Regions from separate parts of the Homo sapiens genome. Here regions 1 and 2 are each linked to region 3. The links come from fine-mapping of genetic effects on gene expression. A gene starts in region 3. Each other region holds a variant in brackets. All regions are shown on one strand. Distances are from middle to middle.

The links. PIP is the estimated chance that this variant, and not a neighbour inherited with it, causes the effect.
Region 1: its variant is fine-mapped to the expression of ARID3C in cerebral cortex (GTEx, PIP above 0.99).
Region 2: its variant is fine-mapped to the expression of ARID3C in cerebellum (GTEx, PIP 0.98).

The regions. Positions count from the first base shown.
Region 1 is chr9:33,989,219-33,997,399 of GRCh38, forward strand. It overlaps UBAP2 (ubiquitin associated protein 2), which reads right to left. Exons shown (of 29, transcript NM_001370062.2): 4 at 7,005-7,115. Among named protein-coding and RNA genes, the nearest start is that of SNORD121A, 40 kb to the left of the region's middle. RefSeq lists an enhancer at 1-130. The variant C/T (reference allele first, on the strand shown) is at 4,372.
Region 2 is chr9:34,671,025-34,679,205 of GRCh38, forward strand. It overlaps a transcript of PHF24 not described here. Among named protein-coding and RNA genes, the nearest start is that of CCL27, 12 kb to the left of the region's middle. The variant G/A (reference allele first, on the strand shown) is at 4,336.
Region 3 is chr9:34,624,183-34,632,363 of GRCh38, forward strand. ARID3C (AT-rich interaction domain 3C) reads right to left here and starts at 4,884. Exons shown (of 8, transcript NM_001017363.4): 1 at 4,735-4,884; 2 at 3,515-3,904; 3 at 1,560-1,632. The coding sequence starts at 3,832. RefSeq lists an enhancer at 12-560 and silencers at 4,693-4,792, 4,843-5,002.

The sequences.
Region 1 (8,181 bases), 630 kb before region 3:
TTGAGACGGAGTCTCGCTCTGTCGCCCAGGCTGGAGTGCATGGCGCCCTCTCAGCTCACTGCAAGCTCCGCCTCCCAGGTTCACAACATTCTCCTGCCTCAGTCTCCTGAGTAGCTGGGACTACAGGCGCCTGCCACCACGCCCAACTAATTTTTTGTATTTTTAGTGGAGATGGGGTTTCATCGTGTTAGCCATGATGGTCTCGATCTCCTGACCTCGTGATCTGCCCGCCTTGGCCTCCCAAAGTGCTGGGATTACAGGCGTGAGCCACCGCGCCCGGCACATGCACGTATCTTTCAAACCTAACTACCCACAGCTTGCAGCTCACCTGCTTATCATTTAAATTCTTTCCCTATAGTTCTACTTTATTGATGATGAAGGTAACAATCCTCTTGCTAAGCTCCTGTTGCTAAATAATTACAGCTATTAGCTGACCTGACAAAATACTGTACATTTTCCCAACATAAAGCCCTTTCCTATGCAAATTTAGGAATACAGTAAAAGTCATTTCCCCAAGCTCCTATTCTACACCACCTCACTTACCTCTCTATTAGGCCTTAAATCTACTTATTAATTCAAAGACCACAAAATTACTTAGAATGATGCCCCAAAAGCTCCAGGAATACAACCTTGCCTGTTCCATTATTCAAACTAATTATCTAAAACAATTTAATGGCAGATAAGTAAAATTTTAGCTTGGTTTTGGTGGGTTTTTAAAAAATTTATAAAGCACCTAAATTTTTAACCTCCAAAGAATTCTTCTAGTGAGAAGTCAAATAATTTATATAACCTCCCTTCTCCACCTCTCCCCTAATGGTGATACCAAATCTAATCTACCATATATATATATATATAAATGGCTGAGAAAGAAAAAGATACTACATTCTTGACTATAAGTGGATATAAAAATTATCAAGCAGGGTAGTTACAGAGAAATCCTAAAATTGGCCCAATAGTTTCCATTTACTTATTCATAATCTGCCTTATTTCAGAAGGGACTGGAAATGACTCCATCCAAAATTAAGAGTAACTGTTTTATGCTTTTTAAAAATCTTACAGAAAAACAAAATTTGACATTATATATCCAAAGTAAACATTAGCACTGGAAATTAATAAACTAAAATTTGGGTGATAAGTTGAATTATTTCCATAACAGTGGAAGCCAACTTCCAAACTCTTTTTTTGAAATGGAATATCTGGTCTTCTGCAAAGCTGTGATGAACTCACATATTTAATTAGATATAAAATGGATATGAAAAAGATATAAATTATGTTCCACCTCTAAGCTTTAATAATGAAGACTGAATATACTATCACCTGATAGTTAAGGTGAAACAATGAGGTATTATCATACAGTTCTGGTGAGCATGCATCTATTGTAACCTTTCTAGAAGGTTACTTAGAAATAGTACCCCCCAATTTTTTTTTTTTTTTTGAGACAGAGTCTCACTCTGTCACCCAGAGTGGAGTGCAATGGCACAGTCTCGGCTCACTGCAACCTGCATCTCCTGGGTTCAAGTGATAACTCCTGTCTCAGCCTCCCGAGTAGCTGGGGTTATAGGCGTACACCACCACACCCAGTGAATTTTTGTAATTTTAGTAGAGACGGGGTTTCACCATGTTGGCCAGGGTGCTCTCGAACTCCTGACCTCAGGTGATCCACCTACCTCGGCCTCCCAAAGTACTGGTATTACAGGCATAAGCCACTGCGCCTGGCCTATTTGGTGCATACTCTTTCAACCCAGCAATTCTACTTCTAGGCCCTTATTCAAATAAAACAACGTGGCCGAGCACACTGGCTCACGCCTGTAATCCCAGCACATTGGGAGGCCAAAGCAGGAAGATCACTTGAGGCCAGGAGTTGGAGACTATCCTGGCCAACATTGTGAAACTCTTATCTCTACTAAAAATACAAAAATTAGCTGAGAGTGGTGGCAGGCACCTGTAATCCCAGCTACTCAGGAGGCTGAGGCAGGAGAATCAATTGAACCTAGAAGGCTTGAACCTGGGAGGTGGAGGTTGCAGTGAGCCAAGATCACACCACTGCACTCCAGCCTGGGTGACAGAGCGAGACTCTGTATCAAAAATAATAATAATAATAACGTAAGAATTGTTCAAACATTTATGTGCAGACAAAATGATCAACAGCATAAAAGGAGGGGAGGCGGATTCCCAAAATATCAAATTCAGGAGACTAAGTAGTCTAGTGTATCCATAAATGGAGCAGTATGTAGCCATTTTACCAGTTACATAGGTACATATAGAAAGAGGTCCTTGATAGAAAAAGCAAGCTATCAGCAAACAGCATATAGAATTACATTTTTTAGTTCAAATAGGAGCCTATGTACTTACTGAAGGAAGAGGTATAAGTCATTATTTAAGTGAGGATGTTTAATTTGATTTAATCTTTAATATTTTTCTGCATTTCTTTTCTAATTAAACAATAAAGCTTATCTATGCCAGAGAAAATAATGCCCACACTGAACAAACTCAATTTATTATGTTTGCTAATATGAAAATACTAGACAACTGTGTAAAACAGAATCCAGTCCTCTTAGGTTAGAATACAAAAAGTAAATTCCAGAGGTCCTGGAAAAATCATCCCAGAAGAGTTGGCATAAAGTGTATGTATACACAATGTACATCTTTACACAGCCTCGCCGAAAGGTACTCTATCTTTATAAAGGGGCCAGCTGTCTTTGTAAAACATCTGAGAAACACTTTACCCCATTTCATATAGCAAATGATACCCTGGCCAGGCACGGTGGCTCACACCTGTAATCCCAGCACTTTGGGAGCCCAAGGTGGGCAGATCATGAGGTCAGGAGTTCCAGACCACCCTGGCCAACATGGTGAAACCCCATCTCTACTAAACATACAAAAATTAGCAGCCGGGTGCAGTGGCTCATGCCTGTAATCCCACCACTTTGGGAGGCTGAGCGGGTGGATCACCTGAGGTTGGGAGTTCAAGACCAGCCTGACCAACATGGAGAAACCCCATCTCTACTAAAAATACAAAATTAGCCGGGCGTGGTGGCGCATTCCTGTAATCCCAGCTACTCGGGAGGCTGAGGCGGAAGAATCGCTTGAACCCGGGAGGCAGGAGGTTGTGGTGAGCCGAGATCACGCCATTACTCTCCAGCCTGGTCAACAAGAGCAAAACTCCATCTCAAAAAAAAAAAAAAAAAAAAATTAGCCAGGCGTGGTGGCACATGTCTGTAATCCCAGCTACTCAGAAGGCTGAGGCAGGAGAACTGCTTGAACCTGGGAGGCAGAGGTTGCAGTGAGCTGAGATCATGCCATTGCACTCCAGCCTGGGTGACAGCGCAAGACTCCCATCTCAAAAAAATAAAAATAAAAAAAAGATACCCTCCCCATCCTACTGCCCCTCAAGCAAAGTCTTGGTTTATGAGCTCTACAAAGACAACTTATCGGGCGGAGGGGGGGGGGCACAAATAGGGAAAAGAACCTTTAAGAAGCAATCTTTACAATACCATAGTAACTGCTAAAAAGATTACTGTGTATTTTGCTGAAGTCTGCAAAGTATACACACATGCATACTTTAAAAAGTTAACCAAGTAATTATGGAGGATTTCCAAGAGAATTTCTGGCAACCTCTGTTATCGGTATTTTGCTAGTTGCAGAACAGGTCTGAAGAAACTCTAAGAGGAGAGGTCCTCCCAGCCACCACATAATAATCAGAACAGCAGTCTTCGAAGCCAGCTAGTTCAAAAATTACTCTCCCACCACTTTGCCTTTGCCAAAAACTACCAACACAAACAACTTACTAAAAAGAGTTAAGTACATTAATTCAAGAGACCGATACTTCAAAACAATTTTGTCACATCAACCAAACATTATGATGAAACAAAAAGTTCAGTACTTATGTTCAATATCTTCCTTTGTGACAGATATACTTACATAAGAAAAAATAAATTTATCCTTAAAAACATCATGGACGATTCCACTTAACACCTTTTCCAAGTAATAATTTTGTTTCAGCACAGAGGAAGGTTAGATAATAGGAAAAGAATCGTTTGCCTTCATGCTCTTGCTCCTAGCAACATCACAGTGTTTATATTCTGTCAACCCTACTCCAATTAACTCTATCTCAGTCAAGGGAAGATAATCAAAGCTGTTTAGCCATAGGTGCTGCAGATGGCAACTAGGTAAGAGATGAGGCAAACAGTATGAGAGACAAGATGTACCAGAGAGTGGTCCTCAACAAACCAGGGTTTCAAAGACTCCAGCCTGAGCAACATAGAAACACAGAGACCCCCTAACTCTACAAAATATAAAAATGATTAGCCAAGCGTAGTGGCATGCGCCTGTGGTCCCGGCTACTCGGCAGGCTGGAGGATGGCATAAGCC[C/T]GGGAGGTCGAGGCTGTAGTAAACCGTGATGGCACCACTGCACTCTAGCCTGGGCAACGGAGTGAGACCCTGTCTTAATAAAAAACCCAAAACACCAAACAACTAAAACAAAGACTTTACCTCTACTTCTGTCCCCCACAGCCCACTCAGCCCTGAACAAGTGTATTCTTTCACAACTATATTCAGAACTTCATTTGCTATTTTCTTATCTTTGAAGAAAACAAGAAGTCAGATATAGCCCACACTATAAAATCGTTCAAGAGGTAACCAAAGAGGTGTTCTTCATGAAAAGTTCAGCTTTGCTTTCTTTTTTTTTTTTTTTTGAGACCGAGTCTCGCACTGTCGCCTGGGCTGGAGTGCAATGCCGCGATCTCGGCTCACTACAACCTCTGCTTCCCGGGTTCAAGCAATTCTCCTGCCTCAGCCGCCTGAGTAGCTGGGATTGCAGGCGCCCACCACCACACCTGGCTAATTTTTTGTATTTTTAGTAGACATGGGGTTTCGCCATGTTGACCAGGCTGGTCTCAAACTCCTGACCTCGTGATCTGCCCACCTAGGCCTTCCAAAGTGCTGGGATTACAGGCATGAGCCGCAGTGCCCAGTCAGTCTTACTTTCTAATACATAGCCCAGAACCAGCTCCTTCAGGTTCGGTCCCAAAGGAGGAGGGGGTGTTAAAACTCAAAACAGAAAGAGAAAACTGGACATTTAAAACTTAAAAATTCACCAAACTACCAGAGAAAAGGAATTAAATCTGCTGGAGCTAAAGGAAAGGCAACAAAAAATAGTGTCTGGACTTATCTCTACCATAAAAAGATCCAAAAAGATCCTCTCCAGTGAACAATTTGGGTTATTTTGTTTATTCCCAAAGATTTTTTCTTTTTTTTTTTTTTCCCTAAACAAAGAGGGCGGTTAGGCTCTTCAGTTCACTTTGAAAATAACTGAAAGCCACTCTCTGCTGTACCCATTAGCGATAAGGTAAACAGATCCTCCATATTTTGCAAAACCCAGGATACTTAGTCCCAGGTCAGTAAACAAAAACTATTCAAAATTTTAATTTATCATATAATATGGTTTTCCCAAAAAAAAAAAATCACAAATTTGATGGTTTGTCTTGTGTACCAGTGTTCTCTTACATGGAATTTTACCAACAATTACTGCTACACTCAAACAGTGAAATCTTTTCCACATTAGTTAATTTTTACTTTAAAAGAATTCATTCTCTTTGTTTCACATCAACTAAAAACACAGTCATTTTAGCTTTCAGTTTCTCAGAGTTCATTTTTGTATTTCTTGTACCTAATGCAGCATGACCCTAAAATGAGACTTCAATTAAATCTGAACACTGACACGGTCAGTTTGTTTGTTTTAAATTTTCCAAGGAAAGGTAGTTATTGATGTGTTCATCTTTGTATCCTCTTTTAGGTGAGTCATTTTTTTTTAATCTACTCTAAAATAGTTTCCTCAATTTAAGAAACATAAACACAGGTCAGGTGTGGTGGCTGACACTTGTAATCCCAACACTTTGGGAGGCCAAGACGGGTGGATCACCTGAGGTCAGGAGTTTGAGACCAGTCTGGCCAACATGGCGAAACCCCACCTCTACTAAAAATACAAAAATTAGCTGGTCGTGGTGGCGCATGCCTGTAGTACTAGCTACTTGGGAGGCTGAGGCAAAAGAATCACTTGAACCCAGGAGACGGAGGTTGCAGTGAGTCAAGATCACACTACTGCACTCCAGCCTGGGTGGCAGAGTGAGGCTGTCTCAAAAAAATAAATAAATATATAAATATATATATTAAATATAAATATATATATAAAGTATATATATTTATATATTATTAAACAAATATTATAAATATTATATATAATATATATTAAATATATAAATATATTTATATTATTAAATATATATATTTATATTATTAAATATATAAATATATTTATATTATTAAATATATTATTAAATAATTTAATTTAATTTAAAATTAAATTATTTAAAATTTAAAATTATTAAATAAATATATATTTATAAATAAATATATACATATGTATAAAAACTATAATATATAAATATAAATATATACACACAGCAAAATTTTAGGGCTGACAAGTGCCTGGTGTAGCTTTAGCTGTATCCTTCTTAAAATCCAAGGCCTGAGCTCATGAGCCTGCAAGCTCACCAAACTTAACCCAATATTAAAAAAAAAAAAGAAAACTTAATATTCCACATAAGCAAATACATATACCAGCAAATCCTGGTTTTCTGTTATAATAGAGATGTAAGAAGTAATCAGAGGTGAGGACTGAGATGAAGAAACATAAGCAACAGAGCCAAGAGATGCTTTTCAGGTGGGGGTGGTGAAAATATACACAGGCACAGAGATTTTTGGAAACTGTAAGGCTGGAGTAGATCACCAAGTTCTCTTTCAAGTCATCAGATTCTACGACTTCATGAAGAAACCATACATAACAAAAACAGTCTTTTCAGGTAATCGTTCTTTCTGGAACTTAAAACAAATATGGAATGGCACCATAATCCATTCCATCCCTACCCCCAAACAAGGTGAAGTTGAAAATGTGCTACGGAATTGGAGACAAATGTAAACAATGCAAATCAATTAATAATACTTACTGTGTCTGAATTCCCTTCCAGCAATATATTGATAGCTTTGTTCACATCTCCATTACAATCATGTAGGGCCACTATGCATTCATCCTGATTTTTCCCTGTCACTTCCATAAGCTAGTGAACATATCAGAAAATGGTTAGAGGCAAACAAAAAACTGGCACTTGATATTAAGATTCTTCTATACAAATACAGAATTACATAATCCTTCTACATGAAGATGGCCTCTTCTAGACTCTTGAGTTTACAATGAGGACATGTTTACTTATTTTTTTGTGGCCATTCCATGCATGTCTTTTCACTAACACTGGTAGAATCTAACTACAAATCAATCTTCCTCCAAGTTGACCAAGGAGCAGATCATTAATCAGCAGCACACACATACGTACCAACATTCTCAGAATACCCAAGATCAAGTATCTGAATAATCAAATTTAATTCAAGCACACAGGATTCCTAAACTTAAATATGAGGTGGAACTATATGAGTACACGGTCATCATTCATGGAAAATCCAATACAAATTTTTTGTCAGGGACAATATTCCATATGCTGGCTTTCACCATTTGGATTAGAACACTTCAAAGGCCAGCCGCAGTGGCTCACAACTATAATCAACACTTTGGGAGGCAGAGACGAGAGGATTGCTTGAGCCCAGGAGTTCGAGACTGGACAATATAGTGAGACCTCATCTTTACAAAAAATTAACCGAGCGTAGTGGTAGGAGGATTGCTTCAGCCCTGGAGGTGAAGGTTGCAATAAGCCATGATTGTGCCACTGCACTCTAGCACAGGAGACAGAGCGAGACCCTGTCTCCCCCCTCAAAAAAAAGAAGAAAAAACATCATTCCATGTACATACTAAGTTATATGACACCCTAAAGTCTTACAAGTGGAATTCTGCTACTATCACAAAACACACTCCTAGACATATTTTCTCAAGGATCTTCAACATGGTGCTATGCTTGAAGTAATGATGAAAGAAACTCTTCAGTTTATTCTCATTAGCAAGAGATACTTGTTACTTAGCATTTTCATCACTAGAACGATCACAGACTAGGCAAAATGCAGGTTTCTCAAGTATCAGTGAATAAATCTATGATTTAATATCTATTGCATTTTAACTACATTTAACTATTTTAACATGTACTAGCTGAAGTTCAAAACAGCTTGATCCCAACATAT
Region 2 (8,181 bases), 47 kb after region 3:
ATCTCTCATCTCTGGACTCTAGGACTTCACCTTCCTGGCCCAGCCAGCACTGTCCCTCTCCCTTATTGACCCATTTTCCTATGCCCCAGAGCTGAGTTAGAATAGCTGGAGGAGAACTTGGCCTAGAACATGCCCATTCTCTACCGTGGCCTCCCTATCCTGGGAATTGAGAGGGATTTTTGAGGAGAGGGTTTGGTCTGCTCACAGAGTAACAGGAAAAGAAAGGAATGAGGGAGTCCTGAGAAGCAGGCTTACTGTGTACTGGTTGCCAATTTGTCTGAGTCCAGTGGGAGAACACATCCAACAAGTTATATGAAATGGATTTATTACTCTCAGGTAGGCAGCAAGGGAAACAGAATCCCAGGATTAATTGTGAGGCAGCCCCCAAGGCTCAGGAAAGCTGCCCAGGGCAGATGGCTTCATCTGCCTATGCTGCACTTGCACTGCAGCCAAGGACTCCAGAAAGCAGCCTGCCTTGGGTTTTATACCCCAGGGCAATGTGAATTCCTGGGCTAAAACATTGAAGGATATTGTTTCTGGGGTGGGACTAGAAGAGAGCCTGTTCCTTGTCTGTTTCTGTCACCTCTTCCTTATCTCAAGATTTTGCATTCCAAGTGAGAAAGGGAGGAGAACTGGGTCAGTGTACGGTCACCCAGAGAACTGTTCTGCCAGACCCAAGAGATAGACCTCTCAGAAGACACTATTGTGGAGTGCTATTCTGTTTCCCATTCCAGATCTAGAGTATATAGTGGAGCAGATTTAATTGCCTGTATTTTTCTGCCTCATCCATCCATCCATCCATCCATCCATCCATCCATCCATCCATCCATGTGTCTATATGTCTACTCATCTTTATCTCTTCATCAGCCCATTCTTCCTTCTTTCATCTTTCATTTATTTTTTCATATATTCATTGTGACCTGTTCATCTGTATGTTCAACCATTATTCATTTATTGTTTCCCTTCATTTGTTTGTCTCTCAGTTATGGTAATAATTAACATTTATGATACTTAAGTGCCAGGCACCATGCAAAATGCTTTAAATTCATTGTCTCATGACAAATCTATGAAGTGGATTGCTGTGGGCTGTTTTTGTTTATGCAGACCACTTTTCTACTTTTCTATACCCCTTTTTGTGGTTCCTGTAGGAAACTCCTTTCCCACTTAACATGGTCTTGGTGGGGCTGTCAGCTACAGTGCTCTGATCAGAGTACCCCTTTTCCTGGCCACTGTGATAGACTGAAGAACTGAGTATGTATCACAAGTACAGTTAACCAGAGCTTTCTATGAGATTTGATGTTTGGATGCTAGGAGAAAGAGAGTCTCTTTTAGATCAATCAATATAAAAATTTAGGCTTAAGGCTTCTAGTGGCCATATTTCTTGCTACTAGAAGAGCACCTGTATCTTAGACCATTTTCTGTTTCTTAACAGAATACCTAAATCTGGGTAATTTATAAAGAAAAATAATTTATTTCTTACAGTTATGGAGGCTGAGAAGTCCAAGATTGAGGGGACATACCTGGTGAGATCCTTCTTGCTGGTGGGGACTCTCTGCAGGGTCGTGAGGTGTGGCACAGGGCATCACATGGTGAGGGGGCTGAGTGTCCTAGCCCGTGTCTTTTCTTAGGAAGCCTCTAGTCCCACACCCATAATAACCCATTACTCCATGGATGGATTCATCCATTCATCAAGGCAGAGCCCTCATGACCCAATCACTACTTAAAGGCCCCACCTTTCAATATTGCTACATTTGGGATTAAATTTCTTTTATTTATTTTTAATTTGTTATATATTTTTAAGAGACGAAGTCTCACTCTGTCGCCCAGGCTGGAGTGCAGTGGCATGATCATGGCTCACTGCAGCCTTGAACTCCTGGTCTCAGCCAGTTCTTCTGCCTCAGCTTCCCAAGTAGCTGAGACTACAGCTACAGGTGTGCACCACCATGCCCAGCCAGGGATTAAATTTCAGCATGAGTTTTGGAGGGGACAAATATTCAAACCATAGCAACCTGTCTATGACAGGAATGAGATCCCTACACAAAAAGATTAGTCAGAGCATGGTGGCTCATGCCTGTAAACCCAGCACTTTGGAAGGCCAAGGCGGACAGATCACCTGGGGTCAGAAGTTTGACACCAGCCTAGCCAACCTAGTGAAATCCTGTCTCTACTAAAAATACAAAAATTAGCCAGTCGTGGTGGCATGTACCTGCAGTCCCAGCTACTCGAGAGATGAGGCAGGAGGATTCTCTAACCTGGGAGCGGGAGGTTGCAGTGAGCCGAGATCGTGCCACTGCACTCCGGTCCGGGCTACAGAGCGAGACTCTATTTCAAAAAAAAAAAAAAGAGAGGAATTGAGGTAAGAGAAGGAGATAACAACATTTCAACCCCTGGATCCAGCCAGGGTTGCAGATAATCTTCTCCTTAATGAGAAGCTTTTTTGTTGTTGTTGTTTGTTTGTTTTTTTAAGATGGAGCCTCGCTCTGTTGCCTAGTCTGGAGTGCAGAGGTGTGATCTCGGCTCACTGCAACCTCCACCTCTTGGGCTCAAGTGATTCTCCCACCTCAGCCTCCTGAGTAGGTGGGTGCCACAGCCTGGCTAATTTTTTTTTTTTTTTTGAGACGGAGTCTCGCTCTGTCGCCCAGGCTGGAGTGCAGTGGTGTGATCTCGGCTCACTTCAAGCTCTGCCTCCCAGGTTCACGCCATTCTCCTGCCTCAGCCTCCAGAGTAGTTGGGACTACAGGCACCCGCTGCCAAACCTGGCTAATTTTTTGTATTTTTAGTAGAGACGGGGTTTCACCATGTTAGCCAGGATGGTCTTGATCTCCTGACCTTGTGATCTGCCTGCCTCGGCCTCCCAGAGTGCTGGGATTACAGGTGTGAGCCACCGCACCTGGCCAGCCTGGCTAATTTTTGTAGAGACAGAATTTCCCCATGTTGCCCAGGCAGGTGTCAAATTCCTGAGGTTAAGCAGGCCACCTGCCTCAGCCTCCCAAAGTGCTGGGATTACAGGCGTGAGCCACTGCATCTGGCCTCATACCTAGTTTTGATATAACAAATTTAACTTTTTGCTCAAGGTGCTTTGAATTGGGTTTTTGCCGTTTGCAACCGAAAAAGCCCTCAGTAAAAATGACTGTATTATCCCTATTATACAGATGGGAAACTAAGACCCAGAAAGGTTAATTTTCCCAAGATTTCCCAGTTTATAATGAGTGGAACACTGGTATTCGGAGCAAAACTCTGCTTTATTACCTGTATGTGTCCATCTGCCCATCTATCCATCCGTCCATCCCATCCATTTATTTCTCTGACCATCTTTCAATGCCAAGACACTGAAGACAATTAGTCTTGTTTCACTTGCCAACTTCAATTCTGAAGCTGAGTCTGGATCAGGGATTGGTAAACTTTCTGTAAATGTCCAGATAGTAAATATTTAAGATTCTGTGGGCCATACAGTCTTTGTAGCAACTACTCAGCTTTGCTGTTGCAGCACAAAAGCAGTCATAGATATATTTAAATGAATAAGCATGGCTGTATTCCAATAAAACTCTATTTACAGAAACAGGTGGCAGGCTGCATTTGGCCCATGGGCCATAGTTTGCCAATCCTAGTCTGGATCAATGGGGAAGACATATTATGTTTTATTATTGGGAACATGAACAGGGAGTGCCCTTGTGTTTGTACTGTGATTATATGCTTAAACGATTGTAGTGTGTCCTTGGTGTATGTGAGTGATTGGCTGTGTGATTGATTATGTGTCTGTGTATGTATGTGTGTGGGTAGAGACACGTAGGTGGGTAAGGGTGTCGGCAATTATGTGTTTGTGTATGGTGTTTTTGTTGTTGTTGTTATTTTTGTTTTTTGAGACAGGGTCTCGCTCTGTCACTCAGGCTGGAATGCAGTGGCGTGATCTCGGCTCACTGTAACCACCACTGGGCTCAAGCTATCCTCCTACCTCCCAAGTAGCTGGGACTACAGGTGCGTGCCACTACACCCCACTAATTTTTTGTATTTTTAGTAGAGATGGGGTTTCACCGTGTTGCCCAGGCTGGTGTCAAACTCCCGGGCTCAAGTGATCCTCCCGCCTTGGCCTCCTGCAGTGCTAGGAGTATAGGTGTGAGCCACTGCGCTGGGCAGGTTTGTTTTCTGGCTGCTTTTTCAATCCATCTCTTTGTGGTTCTCAATCCGCAAGGGCCTGCAGGGGGCGTCCAGTGCCTAGGGAAAAGGGGCTCCTGGCCTGGACTCTCAACCTCATGGGGCCTGCAGAGGGCGTCTAGCATACGGGGAAAATGGAGTGTGTGGTTCCTGGCCTGTGGAAGAGGGGATCTGGCCTAAGTG[G/A]GCTGTCATGTCTTGTTCCAGAAAGGGGCTGGAAATGAGCAAGAAACCAAATTACTCAACTTCTGAAAGTCCCTGATCCTGGGAAGGGGTCTGCTTCACTTCCTATCCTTTTGCAAATCCTCTATTCATGTCTGGAGGGTCTCAGTCCAGCTGGAGGGGCAGAGCTTGGCTCTGCAGTCCCAGAGTGTGGGTGGAACATTGCACAGAACTTCTGGAGGTGATGGGATATCAGGATAGGGGGAAGTCTTGAGCAATAGCATACACCCCTTCCCTGCGTCCTATCCCCTGGAGCTTGAAATAACGCCACTGCCAGGGTTTCCTCAATAGTTATCTCCTCTATTCCCTGCAGTTTGGGTCACTCTGAACCTCAGGGTGCCTGGGCCTGGGCTGAGCTTGCTTGGGAGAAGCTCAGGAAACAAGGGCCCCTGGATGTAAAGCTGAGGGTGACCTCTGCTATGTGGTTGGAGATGGGGAGCCCTGGGGTGTCAGAGGGAAGTAGGGAGGGGAGGCTGCCTGAAGGAGATAGCTTTGCAAAAAGAACCTCAAGGATGGGTGGGAATGGAGAAAGGACATTCCAGACAGAATGAACAGCAAGCACAAAGGCTCAGAGGAGGGACATAAGAGTTTGTGATTAATCCCAATGTAGGTGGGGCGGGGAAAGGGCTAGTGGTGGGAGAGGCTATATGTGTGTGGGAGGTGGAGTGGGGGAGTTATTTCTGGTCATATATAATTTTGAAAAATTCCTGAGGAAGGAGCCATGGGGATGGCCAAGCCCAGATGTTGCAACTGCCCTTAGGAAGGAGGCTGAAGTCAGGGCTGGGCTGTAGTAGCAGGGCTGAAGAAGTGGCGCAGATACCAGAGACATTAAAGAGGTAGAAGTTGGGCTGGGCATGGTGGCTCATGCCTGTAATCCCAGCACTTTGGAAGGCCAAGGCAGGTGGATCACTTGAGCCCAGGAGTTCAAGACCAGCCTAGGCACAATGGGGAAACCACATCTCTACAAAAAATACAAAACTTTGCTGGGCATGGTGGCGGGCCCCTGTAGTCCCAGCTTCTCAGGAGGCTGAGGTGGAGGATCTCTTGAGCCTGGGAAGTTGAGGCTGAAGTGAGCCATGATTATGCCACTGCACTCCAGTCTGGGCAACAGAGTGAGACCCTGGAAGAGCCAGGGATGGTGTACAGATCTACTTCTGGGTTCCAGGCTGCAGAGCCAACTGCCTATTTGGGATTTCCTTGGCTTTCTTACAGATACTGGATTGGGCTGTTTTTGCATTGTTATAAAGAAATACCTGAAACTGGGTAATTTATAAGAAAAAAGGTTTAGTTGGCTCACAGTTCTGCAAGCAATACAGGAAGCATAACACTGGCATTTGCTTCTGAGGAGGACTCAGGAAGCTTACAATCACGGCAGAAGCTGAAGGGGGAGCAGGCATCTCATATGGCAGGGGAAGGAGCAAGAGAGAAACAGAGGGAGATGCCACACGCTCTTAAACAGCTAGATCACATGAGAACTCACTCATTTTCAGGAGGACAGCCCCAAGGGGGTGGGGCTAAGCCCTCCATGAGAAATCCATTCCCGTGATCCAATCACCTCCCGCCAGGCCCTATTTCCAATACTGGGGATGACGCTTCAACATGACATTTGGGCAGGGACACATTTCCAAACTATATCAGATACCTTATTCCAAAACCAAACTCCTGATTCTCAACACCTCCCTCCTAGCTTGTCTTCGTCTTCTCCCCAGTTATCCATCTCAGAAAAGGAAGCCACCATCCCTCCAGGGGCTCAGGCCTGAAGCCTGGTGTCATCCCTGGTTTTTCCCTTGCCCTTATGCTTCAAATATAATCCATCAGCTCAGCCTCATGTTCTACTTATAAGTCCATATTGGATTCCTCTTCTCTATTCCAACTGCCACCACCTAGGTTAGGCCAGCATCATCTCTTTCCTAGACTACTGGAAAAGCCCTCTGACTTCCCCATTCTTTGTACAATTCATTTTTCCTGACTGCTGATAGGGTCTTTGTAAACTGTTTTTTTTTTTTTTTTTTTTTTTTTGAGATGGAGTCTCGCTCTGTCGCCCAGGCTGGAGTGCAGTGGCACGATCTTGGCTCACTGTAAGCTCCGCCTCCCGGGTTCACGCCATTCTCCTGCCTTAACCTCCCGAGTAGATGGGACTACAGGTGCCCGCCACCACGCCTGGCTAATTTTTTGTATTTTTAGTAGAGACGGGGTTTCACCGTGTTAGAAAGAGGATGTTCTCGATCTCCTGACCTCGTGATCCACCCGCCTGGGCCTCCCAAAATGCTGGGATTACAGGTGTGAGCCACTTCGCCCAGCCAGTAAACTGTTAATGAGATCATGTTACTCCTCAGATTAAATCTTTCACAGCACTTATAGAACAAAATCCTCACTCCTTCTTGTGGCCTGCAAAGACTTGGATCCTATGATTCCAGCCTCTGTGTCCTACCTCTTCTTATGCCATCTCCTCCTCGTCCATTGTCCTCTGGCCACACTGGTCATTCCTCCTTGAATGGCTGGCTTCTTCTCTTTTAGGTGTCCTGGTGGTTAATACTGAGTGTCAATTTGATTGGATTGAAGGATTCAAAGTATTGATCCTGGGTGTGTCTGTGAGGGTGTTGCCAAAGGAGATTAACATTTGAGTCAGTGGGCTGGGAAAGGCAGACCCACCCTTAATGTGAGTGGGCACAATCTAATTGCTGCCGGCAATATGTGCAGGCAGAAAAATGTGAAAAGAGAGACTGGCCTAGCCTCCCAGCCTACATCTTTCTCCCATCCTGGATGTTTCCTGCCCTTGAATGTTGGACTCCAAGTTCTTCAGTTTTGGAACTCGGACTGTCTCTCCTTGCTCCTCAGCCTGCAGACGGCCTATTGTGGGACCTTGTGATCGTGTGAGGTAATACTTAATAAACTCCCCCCCTTTATATATTTTCTTTCTTTCCTTCCTTCCTTCCTTTTTTTTTTTTTTTTTTTGGAATGACGTTTTGCTCTTGTTGCCCTGGCTGGAGCGCAATGGCGCAGTATCGCTCACTCTGCAACCTCTGCCTCCTGGGTTCAAGCGATTCTCCTGCCTCAGCCTCCTGAGTAGCTGGGATTACAGGCGCCTGCCACCACACCCAGCTAATTTTTGTATATTTAGTAGAGACAGGGTTTCACCATTTTGACCAGGCTGGTCTTGAACTTCTGACCTCAAGTGATCCGCCCGCCTAGGCATCCCAAAGTGCTGGGATTAAGAGCCACCATGCCTGGCTCTTTCTTTTTCTTTTTTTTTGAGACAGAGTCTTGCTCTGTCACCCAGGCTGGAGTGCAGTGACACGATCTCGGCTCACTGCAACCTCCACCTCCCGGGTTCAGGCAATTCTTCCACCTCAGCCTCCTGAGTCTCTGGGACTACAGGCATGGGCTACCATGCCCGGCTAATTTTTGTATTTTTAGTAGAGATGGGGTTTCACCATGTTGGCCAGCTGGTCTGGAACTCCTGACCTCAGGCGATCCGTCTGCCTTGGCCTCCCAAAGTGCTAGGATTACAGGCCTGAGCCATCACACCCGGCCCCTTTAGATATGTCTATTCCATTAGTTCTGTCCCTTTAGAGTTTAAACTAACACCTGTCTGGTTTGAACCCCCTTCCTGCATAAAAGCCCTACAGGCCAGATACTCACATTCCCAGCCTCTCTTGCATCTAAGAAAGTCCAACCAATCTGGATGTACCTTCTCAGGGCTGTGAATCAAGTATTAGTGATGCAAAGAAGCAAGGACCATGGGGAATCCATTTTGGTGGTGGCAGTAGAATTGGTGGCAGTGCCATTGTCTCTCACTTGGCCCTTTGA
Region 3 (8,181 bases):
GGTCTCTGTTTTAGCAAGAAGGACAGGAGGCTAGAACGGGGGGGGGCAAAGTTCTGTAAAAGGCCAGATGGCTAAATGGTCTCTGTCACAACTACTCAACGCTGTCATTGTAGCCTAAAGGCGGCCATAGAGAATACCTGAAGGAATGGATGCGGCTGTGTTCCAATAATATAGACTCTGAAATTCGAATTTCACCAGTCTGGAGATGTTATTCATCTTTAAATTTTGTCCCCCAACTATTTAAACAAGTAAAAACCATTCTTATCTTGCAGGCAGCTGGGTTTGGCCTGCAAACTTTAGTTTGCTGTCCCCTGGGGTAGACCGCAGGAAGGACTTTCGGACAGTGCTGAAGAGCCGGCCTCCCCTAAGCAGCAGCCCCCGGGTGGCTGCCCAAGGCTGGGGGATGACGGGCGGGAAAAGAATCAACTCCCGCCTCGGCCCGCCGACTCCGCAGCCCGCGCCGCCCCCGCCGGCCAGTCCTGACAAAGGGGCCTGTCTGCGCTGAGCGATGGGCCCCAGTTAATTCCTTACCGATCCCGTCCCCTTCCGCCGCGCCTTTGGACCCGAACAATTAGCTGCGGCCTGATTAATGGGGGAAAATTATCGGCCCCGCGGGACCCCCTCCCCCTGCAGCTGGAGCGGTGGGAGGCAGGGACCGAAGGGAGGCAGGCAATGCTGGGATCGGTTCACACCCGCTACCCCAGTGGAGGGGAGGCCTCGAGGAAGGGCCAGAGAGGGAACACTGGAACCAGAATGGGCCTCCCTGGGAACCAAAAGGACTTAGGTCCCTACTGAGGGTCCCTGGGAAGGTAAGGGACCAGAAAGAGGTGCTGGGGTGAGGGCCGGGAGTGGGAAGTGGGCCAGCAGCTGCACTAAAGGCGGTGGGGGGGCGGGGGGTAACAGGGCAGCCAGTTAATTAGCGGCTTATCAGGCTGCGCTCTGAGTGAGTTAATTAGCTTTGCAGAGAGAGATAATGAGTCAGTGTTCGGTCCCATGAATCTGGGAAAAAGCTGAAGTGATGGACTGCCGCCCACCCTGATGCCCTCCTGGACCCTTCTTGCGTTCTCCTCCAGCTCTGACATTCCTGGAAAGGAATTTCTCCTCCTCCACAGCCTCAACTCACATAGTCCCCAGCCCACCCCTTGGGAAGTCCTTCCTTCAGTCTATTCCTAGTCCTTCCTGCTGTAGAGCACGTGAGGTGTCCCCTGCCTGAATCAAGGGAAAACAGGGAAGACATGGCTGGAGGAAGGACCCTGGACACAGAACCAAGGCATTCTCAGCCCTCTGATTCTGGGACCCTCCCACCCCAGGCCAGGCTCCCATCAGTTCCCCCTCCCACCCTCCCAATTGATCCCAAACTCATTAACCTGCCAGTGGGCTGGCCACTAATTAATCCTGGGGTGGAGGAGGGGGACAGGGTCAGAGGTTAAAGACGCTATCGAGGGCCCAAAGGACAGGTGCTGCCAAGCTCAGGCCTCAGCAGGGAGAACCCAACCGGGTTTCCTCAAACCTGGTAAGGGGGCAATTCCAGGGCCCTTCCCCCACATCATGCCACTCACCCCTCTTTTGCATGAAGCTAAACAGGTCATCCAGAAATTCCTTCCTCTTGGGGTCTGCATCGAGCTCATACAGCTGGGGAAGGATTGGGGTCATTCTACAGCTCTGCTGACTCCCCCTCCCTCCCTTGACCCCAATTCAGGTTGTACCCTGAACAAGGGTCCCTAGCTGAAGGAGTCAGTAGGATCTCAATGTGGACTCCCTGGGATTAGCATTAGGCTCTCTCCGCCTAGGGGCAGGCAGGGGTGCCTTTTTCTAGTACATACAGAGACTGGTACTGGTAGTGGTACCCTGGGCCATTCAAACCACCCATCTGGGGAGTAAGGGAAGAGAGGAACAGGATGGAGCTTGGAGGCTCAGCCTGCCCTCTGGGGCTCAGTCTTCCCCCACCCTCATGGGAAATTTAGAGCCCCAGGAAGGAAGCTAGGCTGGGGTTGTATACCAGACTGAGGAGACAAACATATATCTGATGCTCTGATTCATTCATGCAAGGACTTCATGGTGTTCACATCCCTGTATGCCAGGGCTGGGGGTGACTGAAGGGCAGAGATGCTCCTAACCCACCCCTCAGGCAGGGTGATGCTCAGAAGCTCCTGGGTTGACACCCAGGGCCCTTCAGCTCATCTTCTGGTCTGATTTCCTTTCAGAGGCAGTTAACCTGCCTACAGACGCTGCTATAGAGGCACTGGCCCTGTACCACCTAGGACCTGTGGGGTCAGAGTTTAAAGGATCCACAGGCCATCTCAACTCTTCCTGGTAATCTGGAGTCCCACCTCCTGCATCAACTCCCGAATACTAGTCAAGAGAACCACCCCTTGAGTCACTGACCCAGAGTAACAGTCCTTGAGTAACACCTATAGATAATATTCCATCACTCCATCCCCATAAGAATCCTCAGAGTATAAAACAAACAAAATATCCATGAGTAATAAACCCCAGATCCACCTTTAGAGCCACATTCCCACAAAAATTGAGCCCTAAGTCTAAGATGTTATTACTTAGATCCAAGTAATAACCCCTAGAATTATACCTAGGAGAAACAGTCTCTAGACCACATATCCAGAACAGAGCCCTGAGTAACACTCAGTTTTATACTAATGCCAGAGTACTAGTCACAGATCAACACTTTTGGAATATACCCAGACCAACACCCTACAAGTACCAGAATAGCACACCTGGAGACACAGCCCTGTGTAACACCTTCATAGTGACAGCCTTGAGTAGTGTCCTTAGAATAACACCCAGAAGGGTTCTCCAGGGAGAAAGAACCTCAGATTAAGGCCCTGTGAATGAAGTCTTGTCATTCTGAGTTGCGGAGGAGCCCTTTAGTCATACTGCGGCTGTAGTGGCCATCCCAGGCTGGGAACTATCATCCGTGGAACTCAGGCCAGGGAGATTTGCATGGGGCCAGGGTTAGGGAGGAGGTGACAGGAAAGAAAGGAAAGGTGTATCAGCCTGCCAAGTGAGTGATAACCTCCATTCTGCTTCCAAAGACAGAGGAAGCAACTGGGTCACCCCCACTGGTCACTGGAATATGACCTTGTGACTTGATGTGTGAGAAGGTAGGCAGGGTGGTGCTGGCATTGGAATCCCCAGCCCCTAGACTGCCTTCCCTACACCTGGCTGGGCATGGTGGCTCATCCCTGTAATCTCAGCACTTTGGGAAGCTGAGGTGGGAGGATTACCTGAAGTCAAGAGTTCGAGACCGGCCTGGGCAATACAAGAAAACCTTGTCTTTACAAAAGAAATTTTAAAAAATTAGCCAGGCATCTGTCTTTCCCTCCCTGTCACTATCCTCCAATCTTCTCTCTGTCTTTCTATAGGTCTCCGTGTCTCTGTGTCTCTTTTCATCTTGCAGAGGGTGGTGGGGGTGGGTGGGCTGCTAATCACCTGGCTGTGCTTTTGCCAGAAGAGAGAGATAGGGAAGAGGGCCGGACATTGAGGGCATAGGTCCTACCTGCTTGAATTGTTCCTCGTAGGTCCACTCGTGGGGATGGAGTCCAGGGGGCTGGCTAGAAGGCGAGCTGGGGCCCTGGGCCCCTGGACGGCTCTCCTCAGCTGCCTCCTCCTCTGCCCCGGCTTCCTCCCGCTTCTCCTCATCTTCTTCAGCATCTTCCTCTTCCTCAGCCCCAACATTCCCCAAGGCCCCCTCAGGGGCCTGTAGGGTCCGGTGGTCAGGCAGGGGAGGCTGCGGTGGCAGCAGCGGGCATGCAGGGGCCAATGGCCCCACCCCCTGGGCCAGCCGAGCTGCCTGCTGCTTCTGCAGGGCCTCCATGACAGCTTCCAGGCGCAGTCCCCCAGCTGAGGGGGTCCCTGGTACCAGGCGGGACCCCGAGGAAAGGGCCGCCTGTGGGGGAGGGAATTATGGGTGCTGGGCCCTACTGCCCCCAGAGCCCCCCAACACAGGGGGAGGTGGTCATGGATTCAGGGAAGTGCAGGGGTCACAAGGAAAGAGGCAGAAAGATGGCTTTCCCAGAGGTGAACAGAAACAGGACCAGACCCGGGGAATCAAATGGCCATTGACTGAGGACTGGAAGAGTGAGCAGATCAGAGAGGGTGACGGGGACCAAGAGACATCGGGAAATGGTGAAGGAAGGGAGAGAGAAAGAAAAGGAGAAGGGGGATGTCCGACAGAGACAATGACAGGGAGATGTGAAAATAGAGATGGAACAGGGTGACAAGGAGAGACAGAAGTGGGGTGACACAGAGACTGAGAGGGACCAAGATGGAGAGAGGCAGAGGTATCAGGCAGAGACAGGGTAGACAGACAGAGATGGAGAGAGATAGAATATTGGGTAGAGAGACAGGGAGGGTAAGAGAGGTAGAGGAGCAACAGATAAAAGACCTAAGTGACAGGTAGCTCAGAGACGGACAGAGACGGAGAGACAGAGGCGGAGATAGACAAATAGACAGGGGTTGAGATATAGGGAAAGACCAAGACAGCAGGAAACGGACAGAAGAGAGAGATTAGAAAGAGACAGTTAAATAGAGAGGGACCGACAGAGACAGGGACGGGAAAAACAGCCGGAGAGAGGGGCAGAGGACAGGGACCAAGGAGTCGCGGGGATGGAGGGCGGTGGGGCAGAGCCTGGGACGGGCACGGGACCGGACGGGCAGGAGGCGGCAGAGTCGCGACGCCCGGCTCCCTCGCTCCGGGCGCCCCGCGGCCGCACTCACCTGCCTGGCGTGGCCCGCTGCCCCTGGCGTCTCCACGGCGCTGCCTTTGCTCCGCCCGCCTCCCAGGCGGCCCTGGCCTCGGCTGGGTCCCGGCGGTGCGCTCCCGCCGCCCTGTGCTCCTCTGGCGGCTGTGCGCTCACTCGCCGCGCTGCTTGCGGCGGCCGCGGGGGCGGGACCCGAGCGGGGCAGGGCGGGCGGGGCGCATGGGGAGAGGCCCCTGTGGGATCTGCCGCTCTCAGCTCCCCAACAGGTGTCTCCCACCTTCTTTCCAGCCAGCTTCGGGGGCAGGGGGCGCTGGAAAGCTGCGGGGGAATCGTGCGAAAATGAGGGCTCTACCGCCACCGGACTCCGGACCAGAGCCCCGCCCAGCCTCACAAGTCGTGCCCCCGACACCCACACTCGGCACTGGGCTTCCACATACAAATAGCCGCATCCACACACCAACACACCTTGTCACAAGTTCAGGCGCATAGCTTCCCAGTCTCACACGTTCCGTGACATGGTCACCACAGTGCCAATGGCCTGGGCACGCTGTGATCAAGAGGGGAATCCCTCTGCAAGATGCTGGGGTGTGCGTGGAGGGTCTGGTCAGAATAGAAGCTTCTCCCTTTGCCTTGAGCACCCCTGCCCTGCCTACGTGCTGTCCCCCACTGCGGGCATGCTGCGGTTTGCACACATGAGTGCACATGGTGGTGGACCCACACCTATGCACTCACACACTCTCAGAGGTCTTTAAGCTGACTGCACACTCACCGCATGCAGATACACAGCCACACACAGTTTTTGTCTCTTTTGACATTCTATTATGGAAATTTTCTTTTCTTTTCTTTTTCTTTCTTTTCTTTTTTTTCTTTTTTGGAGACAGAGTCTCTGTCACCCAGGCTGGAGTGCAGTGGCGCGATCTGGGCTCACTGCAGCCTCCGCCTCCCAGGTTCAAGTGATTCTACTGCCTCAGCCTCCCGAATAGCTGGAATTAGCTGGGATTACAGGCGTCCACCACCAGACCCGGCTAATTTTTGTCTTTTTAGTAGAGATGGGGTTTCACCATTTTGGCTAGGCTGGTCTCGAACTCCTGACCTCAAGTGATCCACCCACCCTGGCCACCCACAGTGCTGGGATTACAGGCATGAGCTACCGTACCCAGCCTGTATTATGAAAATTTTGAAACATAGACAAGTGAATAGTATAATGAACCTCTGGTACTCATCATAGGTTTGTTTCAACAGTGACCGGCACTTCGCCCATGTTCACACACATTCTCCACCTATGTGTGCCTGACTGCCACATCTGTATCTCCAGACCCCCTCAGCCCACTGCTTTGCGCCCTCCCCCTAACTATTCCCAAGACGCTGAAATGCTGTTCCTTATTTGGGGGTTCTGAGTGGCAGGCCTCTCAGAATTTCTGCTCTGAACAGCCTGGACCCCACTCCTCCCGGGAATCCTCATACTTCCTATTTCTTCCTGTGCCCAAGGGGACCACTTACCAAACAGAGGGACACTGTGAGGTGATGCCAAGTGTGTAAGTGAACAGCAGGTGTCTGTAGGGGTGACACTTGGCATAGGTATGAAACTGTGGCACCAGAGACTGTCTTCTGACCTCACACCCCCAGAAGGCAGGAATCCAAACACGACCTTTGTCTCCTCCCTCCTCCCTTGTCCTCTCCCAATCAGTCCACTCCTCTCAGCCTCAGCTTGCTCTGGCTCAAACCACCGGCTCTTCTGACCATGGTGGGTCTGACCATGGTGGGTGCCTCCTCCCTGCTCTCCCTGCCTCCAGCCGCCACCCTTCTCTGCACCCTTCTGTGCCCAGCTTCTACTGCAGCACTAAGTCCTGGTTCTCTATGGCCCATTCCTGGCCACGCTGAGGCTCACCCCATTCATTCCTTTGGCTGCCCCAGTGTCCTCCACCTCAGATTTCAGACCTCTGAGCCCATCAGAACCCCCCAGCCTCCAGAAGCTCCAGTGATCCAATCACTGTCGGTACTGATGCCTCCTCCCCCATGGCTTTGTTTGGTGTGAGTATCCTGGGGCAGAGCCAAGCCTCCTCCTCTGCCCAACCCTCCCTGATGCTGGGAGGGGAGAATCAGTGAATGTGCCAGGCAGACAGACATGCCCTGGAAGTCTACTGGAAGACTGGAGAGCAGAGGGTAGCAATCCACAGAACCCTTGTGCCCTGCTTGCTCCCTTTTCCCCACCACAGCTTCCCCTGGCTGCTCAGAGGAGGTCCATGGACAAAGGTAGGTGGCCAGAGTCTTCCTAGAAAGGTAGGAATTGGCTTGGGGAAATTCCAGTTCTGAGTGTTTGGAGATCGCTTTGTAGGGTTTGGGTTGAATGGTAAGGGGCTGGGCAGTCACTCCCCCAGCTCCCAAATCAATCAAGCAAAGTTAATCCACTTTTGGGGTCTGGGCCAGGAGGGCTACAACTGGGAAGGGCTGAGGGGAAGGAATATGCTTGACTGGGACTTGGTTTATCTCTCTTCATCTGTGAAAAGGAAAGGCTGCCTCTCATACCCGCAGTCTGGTCTTATACCTCACAGAGACGGAGACAGACCTAGACCTTCAGAGACCCATGCTTCATTCATCCAACACATATTTATTATCTATTTTTTTTGCCAGGCACTGTTGGACACAGGAGCAAATAAGACAAAGTCCTTATTATAATGGTACAATTCTAAGTGGGGGAAATATACAGTGTGTCAGATAGTGGTAAGTACCATGGAGAAAAATGTAGCTGGGTTGGGGGGAACATAAAAGGGGGCATTAGTTACCTATTGCTGTGTAACAAATCACCCCATAATTTAGCAGCTTAAAACAAAAACATTTATTTTCTCACAATTCTGTGGGTCTGGATGGTTCTGACTCATTGTCCTCTAAGGTGTTGTAGTAAAAAGGTTGGCCAGGGATGCAGTCATCTGAAGGCTTGACTGGAACTGGAGGATCTACTTCCAAAATGGCTCACTTGCATGGCCCTTGGCAGGGGGCCTGTTCCCCCCGCAATATGGGCCTCTCCATAGGATTGCTTGTATGTCCTCTCAACATGGCAGTTGGTTTCCCCCAGAATGATCCAAGAGAGACTCTTTAGACAGCAATGCTTTTTATGGCCTAGTCCTAGAAGTCACACACTGTTATTTATGCCACATTATTTGTGAAAGTACATAATTAAGTCTAGTCCACTCAAGGGGAAGGAATTTAGGCTTCACCTCTTGAAGGACAGAGCATCAAAAATTTTGTGAAGGTATTTCAAATCACCATGCAAGAGATACTATTATATAAGTGTTGAAGAACTCAGTGAGCAGGAATTGAAGGAGGGGAGGAAGAGAGCTATGACTACGTGGATACCTAGGGACGAGCACTACGGTCAGAATAGCAGGTACAAATATCCTGGGATAGAATTTTGCTTGATGTGTTGGAAGAAAAGCAAGGAGGCCACTGGGTTGGAATAGGGGGG